Regions from separate parts of the Homo sapiens genome. Here region 1 is linked to region 2. Evidence: fine-mapped expression QTL. A gene starts in region 2. The other region holds a variant in brackets. All regions are shown on one strand. Distances are from middle to middle.

Evidence for each region. PIP is the estimated chance that this variant, and not a neighbour inherited with it, causes the effect. A credible set is the group of variants that fine-mapping cannot tell apart.
Region 1: its variant is the best candidate, but not a certain one, in a credible set for the expression of PGK1 in whole blood (TOPMed, PIP 0.68).

What each region holds. Positions count from the first base shown.
Region 1 is chrX:78,945,927-78,949,926 of GRCh38, reverse strand. P2RY10 (P2Y receptor family member 10) reads right to left here. Exons shown (of 4, transcript NM_014499.4): 2 at 2,064-2,112. Among named protein-coding and RNA genes, the nearest start is that of P2RY10, 2.5 kb to the right of the region's middle. The variant G/T (reference allele first, on the strand shown) is at 2,023.
Region 2 is chrX:78,102,255-78,106,254 of GRCh38, reverse strand. It overlaps PGK1 (phosphoglycerate kinase 1), which reads right to left and starts at 2,007. Exons shown (of 11, transcript NM_000291.4): 1 at 1,850-2,007. The coding sequence starts at 1,914. RefSeq lists a silencer at 2,061-2,120.

The DNA.
Region 1 (4,000 bases), 840 kb before region 2:
TAAATTTCACATGAATTATCCAAGCCAATCTGATCTCCATGACCCCGGTGTTCTTCATTCAGCCGCTTACAACCAGAACCAAAGAGTAGCAGCTAGAATTGGAAACTCTGCTGTTTCCTGAATAAATCTACATCAACTCCAAATAAGCCTGGTTGACATGAGATACACACAAATTTGGACACATTCTGCAAGTACAGACATTTTCTTCTGTTAGAGGAAGTGAAAATTATTTTTATCCTTAAAATGAATTAAAGCAATTAGACCATTAACAAAACAACAACTTAAAGTTTGAATTTGAACTTTCATGCAGGAATATGTATTGGACTTTCAATCATTTAGGAAGGCGGCCTAATTAGATATCATTTTTGCAGCTGTGGCAGCATTTTATGGGTGGAAATAATCATGTTCTTTGGAAGACCTGGTATCATATCATGTCTCAATTGTCGGTTCTCTGGCCTGAAACAATTCACTTCATATCACCAGGCTTCAGTTTCCTCTTTTGTAAAATTAGAATGGTTCCTGCCACATAATTTGTTTTGAGCATTAAAGAAAAATGTGTCTGAAAATAATAATCCGAGTAAACAGACAACCCACAGAATGAGAGAAAATATTTGCAGACTATGCATCTGACAAAGGACTAGAAACTAGAATCTACAAGGAACTCAAACAAGTCAGCAATAGAAAGAGAAATAATCCCATTATAGAGTGGGCAAAGGACATAAATAGAGATTCCTCAAAAGAAGATATACAAATGGCCAACAAACACGAAAAAATGCTCCACATCACTAATCGTCAGAGAAATGCAAATTAAAACCAGAATAAAATAGCACGTTACTGCAAGAATGGCTATTATTAAAAAGTGAAAAAAAAATAGATGCTGGTAGATATGTGGATAAAAGAGAAAGCTTCTACACTGCTGGTAGAAATGTAAATTAGTACAACTTCTATAGAAAACAGTATGGAGATTCCTTAAAGAGCTACAAGTAAATCTACCATTTGATACAGCAATCCTACTAATCACAATTGCAAAGATGTGGAATGAATCTATGTGCCAATTGACTAACGAGTGGATAAAGTAAATGTGGTGTATATACACTATGTAATACTCCTCAGCCATAAAAAGGATCGCAATAATGTATTTTTGCAGTAACTTGGATGGAGGTGGAGTCCACTATTCTAAGTAAAGTAACACAGGAGTGAAAAATAAAAAAAATAGATGTTCTCACTTATAAGTGACAGATAAGCTATGATTATGCAAAGGTATACAGAGTGATATAATGGAATCTAGAGACTCAGAAGAGGGTGGGTGAGACAGGCTAGGCATAAAAATATTACACATTAGGTACAACGTGCACTACTGAGGTGGTGGGTGCACTAAAAATCTCAGAATTTACTGCTATATAATTTACCCATGCAACAGAAAAAAACACTTGTAGTTCAAAAAATATTGAAATAGAAATGAAAAAAAGAAAATGTGTGTAAAAGTACCTATTTTCATGTCTGATACCCAATAAGTATTAAATAAATGTGAGTTCATTTCCTCTTTATTTGTACACAGAGTCATCTCCAAGGGCCTTTGGTTGGATCCTGTACATTTCTGGATTTAGAAAATCCCCTAAGAAGTGTAGTTGTAGCAGAGGACTAGAATATCTAGAGCAGTAATTTTTAAAGTTAAAGGGTAGAAAATAAGTGTTACTTGATAAAACATATTCCTTATTATAACAAATATATTTGGAAAACAAAATAAAAAATGTCATTATTGTTTCTACAATACAAACTGTGAAAGTACAGATCTACAAAATCCTCTTAACTGTTGGGCACTTAGTACTTGGAAAATGTCAATGTGATGGAGCAGATTTTTCTACAAGTCCAGGGTCTGGTCCCTAGGAAGGCAAGTTCACAGTAACCTTGTAGTGAAATGTTTACGTTTCTCAAAGGGAACCTTGGGTTTAAAAGATTGAGAAATGCCAACTGAGTGTCATTGTCACTGTGGAAATTAGATTTCAGAAAGTTTTATCTTTT[G/T]TCTTGCATTTTCTCATTTTTAAAAAAGGGAAATTACTTACAAAGCATTTGCCTGTGGTCTAAAAGTTGAAGCTGTCATGATAACATTACCTGAAAGAAATATAATGGCAATTGGGAAAGGATACTCAGTTCTCTTGGAGATCTGAACTACATTTCCAGAATGTCCTCTCTAGATAGATTTCCCTATTATGGCCCCATTATTCACCACTCCATAACATTTAACTATTCTTAGGTATCTAACAGTCTAACTCAAATCATTGGATTGCTAGGAAGGAAATTAGGAACCATCTATTCCAAGCCCTCTCCCATTATAATAGATGAGATTATTGAGATGCACAGAAATGAAATAACTCACCGAAGGCCACACCAGTCATTGGCAGAACTTGAACTATAACACAGACTTCTGACTCCTTATGTATTGATCTATCTATTTGATCACTCTACCTGTGATGTATATGAACTGATACTAGGAGAAAACTTCTCCACAAAATATACTGATCTGAAGAATAAATAAACCTTTTTGCCAAAAGCTTTTAAAATAAATCATAGACCACCGGGGAACCATTGCCCTGATTGTTAGTGCTTTTAGAAAGTCTCATTTTACTATAAACAGCTTTGTTCTCTTTGCTTGAGCCATGACAGAGAGCTATAGTATAGATAGGCAGCCTATCTTTTTTTTATTTTTTTTTTGAGCCAGAGTCTTGGTCTGTCTCCCAGGCTGGAGTGCAATGGCACAGTCTCAGCTCACTGCAACCTCCATCTCTCGGTTTCGAGCGATTCTCCAGCCTCAGCTTGCCCAGTAGCTGGGATTACAGGCGCCTGCCACTGCAACCAGCTAATTTCTGTATTTTTTAGTAGAAACGGGGTTTCGCCATGTTGACCAGGCTGGTCTCGAACTCCTGACCTCAGGTGATCCACCTGTCTCGGCCTCCCAAAATGCTGGAATTACAGCGTGAGCCACCAAGCCCAGCAGGCTGGCCTGTCTTTTAAAACCCCAACTCACTTATTTCAAACCAAAACAACCCATAAATGTGTTTATTCATTTGATGTCTTCAGATTTGAGTAGTCTGTACAACTTGAACTCTACAACTTTCCCAGTTGAGCCCCAAAATAAACTGCATTTGGCCAAAGAATCTGTGTTCAACAGGAACCATTGCAAAAACAATTGCCCCAAATGTGTGATCTGATTCTGACTGTAGTTTACACCATTTTCCACCTCAGTATATCTGCATATCACCTACTTTCATAAGTGGTTAATTTTACTGTGCTGCAATTGCTAAGAGATAGATTCTCCAATTAATATACATCATAATGACTCCACACATCCATTTGAACAACTGAAATAAAAATATTCTCACTTGCAGGATTCTTGGAACTGAGCCTACTCCCCTGGAAAGCACAGCCAAATCTGGTATCATTCTATCCAGCCTTATCCTGGTTCCAAATGATTTGGCACAGTCTCCCTTCAGGGACTCCTTAGCTGAAAGTCTCCTTTTGATTTAGTCATCTTAGCTCAGAAGGAGAGAGGTGCTAGTATTCAGAGTAATAGCAATAATAACTGAAAAAATGAGTGCCTCACTCATGGGCTTTGCTATCCAGTAAGGCTGAACTTCGGTCAAAATTAGCTTTCAAAGGATCAAGGAACCACTCTGACCAGACTCTGAAGTCATCTGGGATACTTTCTCCTTTCCTATCCTAAAAAATGGCAGGGTCACAAATAAATTTACAGTATTCTCTGGGAGATGCAAACTGCTGTAGGAAAAGGCAAACATGAGTTTAAAGACACAGGTCCTAGATCCACCTATACCACTAACAAGCTGAGTGAACCTAAGTGTCTTCACTTCACTGGCTCTCAGTTTTCCTGACTGTATTGTGAGGGATTTGGATCTCTATGGGCCCTTTCAGCCCCCAGAATCTATTACCCTGCTTTCTACTATTTGTCTCAGTATCTCTGAAAGCTAAATTTTCCAAAGCAAGG
Region 2 (4,000 bases):
ACTTGGTAGTTCAGTAACCCTGAACAGGTCATTTTCCATCAGCAAAACAGGACTAGCCAATCATTTCAAGGCTTTGGGTTAGCGTGTGCTAAATGAAACTTTATTAGGTCCAGAGGGAGAAAAGTTAAGCAGCTCCTCCAATCCCGCCCCCAGCTAGCTTCCTCAAGCCAGTTTCCCTAGAGAGAGAGGAAATAAAGCCCAAGACTGCAATTACAGGAAGGTTATCAGCATAATGTCCCACTCCTTGTCTGTTAGTTGGTCCATGCATCTGGAAGAATCAGCGTCGAACACAGGGGAGATGCAAGGAACTAATTAAAACCTAAAAGCTAGTTGCATGCCAATGTCCACCTGTCCTGTTTTTTACAGGGTCTATCCCCTTTTTTTAGGATTGTATGAGGGCCAGAAAGGGCACTCCTCTAGTACTAACATGGCTGTGACTCCTACTTTGTCCAGATTACAAAGGCCTATGTCATTTGGGGAAATGTGGAAACCAGGTATTTTTCATGGACATAAATTATTGGGTTCTTCTATCTCCACAGCAGGGCAGCGGTTACCTGCAAAAATATTGACCAAAGTGAAATTAGAGAGAAGAGGAGAGCTACATGTCCTTTTAGGGTACCCATACAGTTCCCTAACTCAAACGTGTCCTCATATGTTTAAAGTTAGAGTAAAGGGAGATCTCCTACTGACTTACGTGTCTGTTAATATCCAACACAAGCCCTCATTTGAACCAGCCCAAATTGGAAAAGGGGCTAGATTACACCAGCCAAATAAATACCTACCCATCAATCAACCACTTCCCAAAAAGGTCAAGGTTGCAAAATGCTATCAACAGAAACCTTTATGACCCCTCAAAAACACCACTCTTGGATCCTGTTAAGGTATATGAACAGTCAAGTCCATCAGTTACATACCGACTCATCCTCCTGCACCTTGCTCCTGGTATGCACAAATATATCACACGTGACAAAAAGGATAAATGTAAAAGCTGCCCACTCTACCAACAATTCTGGCAGATAAGAGAGAAACCGTGTTGGCAAGTGACTAGAGATCCACATGCGCAGAGTAAGAGACCCAAAGTGCACGAGGAAACTTCCCCCAATTTTAAAATTCTACTTTTCTAGCCACACGTGGGGATGAGATTGGAGGCCAGCAAGTATGAGCAGCCACACCCTGCTCTACCATTACCTAGTATGTCACAATCCTGATGCAAATCCTGTGCCCAAGAGTCCAACGATACCGCGCTGCAGGGCAGCAGACGCCTGTTACGTAAGCTCTGCAGGGCCTCCTCCAGTTCGCCCCGCCCTACCCTCCCACCCCAATTCTTTAGTGGCGGGGGGCGGGGGGGTCTACTCCTGAAGTTAAATCAACATCCTCTTGGAAAAATATCCTTTTGTGCAGGAACCTGTGAGATGTGGGCCGTTTCTCATTTGGCTGCGACGGTCTAGGAGCGTGGGGGAAGGGAAAGTAAAATGACCTTTCAAGGTCCCTTCCTTGAAGCCTAGAGATTTGCAGGATAAGCATTAAGTCCCATCTCGCCGACTGGGAGCTGGAGGCAACGGAACTGCATTTCACCAATAGGAAAAAGGACAAAATGGGTCCCAGCGGCAATCTCAGCCCTTCCTCAGTGGGATCCATCCCCGAAGGGTGACTTCGGGTGCTTTCTGGGCTGGGGAAAATGCGGCTAGAAACCACCAAACCCGTGAGCAGCCTCGCCCTCCAAGCCTAGGACCCCTGGGGCCCAGCCAAAAGCTAAAAGAACTTAGAGCAGACGAGAGAACAAGTCGGCTCCGGCCAAAGAGGTTTGCGACAGAGCACAGAGAGCACGCGGGCAAACGTGCAGAATTACCTCATAACGACCCGCTTCCCTTTAACGTCCAGCTTGTCCAGCGTCAGCTTGTTAGAAAGCGACATTTTGGAAATACAGCTGGGGAGAGAGGTCGGTGATTCGGTCAACGAGGGAGCCGACTGCCGACGTGCGCTCCGGAGGCTTGCAGAATGCGGAACACCGCGCGGGCAGGAACAGGGCCCACACTACCGCCCCACACCCCGCCTCCCGCACCGCCCCTTCCCGGCCGCTGCTCTCGGCGCGCCCTGCTGAGCAGCCGCTATTGGCCACAGCCCATCGCGGTCGGCGCGCTGCCATTGCTCCCTGGCGCTGTCCGTCTGCGAGGGTACTAGTGAGACGTGCGGCTTCCGTTTGTCACGTCCGGCACGCCGCGAACCGCAAGGAACCTTCCCGACTTAGGGGCGGAGCAGGAAGCGTCGCCGGGGGGCCCACAAGGGTAGCGGCGAAGATCCGGGTGACGCTGCGAACGGACGTGAAGAATGTGCGAGACCCAGGGTCGGCGCCGCTGCGTTTCCCGGAACCACGCCCAGAGCAGCCGCGTCCCTGCGCAAACCCAGGGCTGCCTTGGAAAAGGCGCAACCCCAACCCCGTGGAATTCGAGGCTGCCCTACCAGGATCAATGCAAATGCCACCTCCTTTTGGAAAATCCTGGTTTCCTAGCTCCCTTCATGGAATTCTGCTTCTTAAGGCTTACTTAGTAATAGAGACCTCTCAGAAGTTGGAAGAGGCCCAGGTCCACTCTGGCCCCCACCTTTTTTAAAATAAAAAATGCAATGTAATTTTTCTGGTTATGGCATGATTGATGCTAATGGCAAACACGTGGCATTTTTCATATATTAACCAACGCTCACAAAACGCAGTAGTGACTACTGTTATCCTCATTAGGCAAATGAAATAACTGATGCACAGAGAAGTTTAGTGGGCCAGGCGCGGTGGCTCACGCCTTTAATCCCGGCACTTTGGGAGGCCAAGGCCGGCAGATTGCTTGAGCCCAGTGGTTCGAGACCAGCCTGAGCAACATAGCAAAACCCCATCTCTACTAAAAATACAAAAAATTAGCTAGACGTGGTGGCGGGCACCTGTAGTCCTGTTACCCGTGGAGGGTGTCCAAGTTCTTAGCGTCTTGAACTAAGAACTGGACGAAATGCACAAAGCAAAGAAAGAATGAAGCAATAAAAGCAGAGATGTATTGAAAACGAAAGTGTAACCGCCCAATGGGTTCACCTTGTCCGCTGCCTAGACAGAGCTGATTTATGAAGACGGGAATTGCAATGGCGAAAGAATAATTCACGCTGAGCGCTGTGCGGGAGACCAGAGTTTCATTATCACTCAAATCAGTCTCCCTGAGCATTCTGGAATCAGAGTTTTTAAGGATAATTTGGCAGGTATGGGTTCGGAAAGTGGGGAGTGCTAGTTGGTCGGGATGAAGATTAAATCACGGGGTCGAAGTGAGTTCTTGCGAGTTCTTCCTGGGTGGGATCGTGGAGCTAGTTGAGCCAGATTATCAGTCTGGGTGGTGTCCTCTGCTGCATGAGAATGCAGGGTCTGCAAAATATCTCAAGCACTGATCTTAGGATTTGCAATGGTGATGTTATTCCCAGAAGCAATTTGGGGAGGTTCAGATTCTTGCAGCCAGAGGCTGCATGGCCCCTAAACTGTAATTTATAATCTTGTAGCTAATTTGTTACACCTACAAAGAAAGGCAGACTGGTCCCAGCAAGAAGGGGAAAGGGCTGTTATCAATTTTGTCTCAGAGTTTACACTATAAATTCTTTCCCAAGGCTAGTTTGGCCTATACCCAGGAATGAACAAAGACATTTTAGAAGTTAGAAGGAAGATAGGGTAGGTTAGGTCTGATCTCTTTCACTGTCATAATTTCCTCAGTTATGATTTTTGCAAAGGCGGTTTCAAAAGTATACTCCACAAGGTGAGAGCAGGCCTGAGCAAGCAGCTCAAGAGCTTGGTTACAGAATTTTCTGGGGTCTAAATACCCGGTAGAGGTTTCCCATTAGCCACTTGGTGTATACCCCATGCAAATGAAGTAGTGGTCCATGGTCAGTCTGATTGGTTGCAGAAAGTGACCAATCAGAGGCTGAAGTGAAGTTACAAAGTTACACTCCTATACAAATGAAAACTTGGCCTGCCACCAGC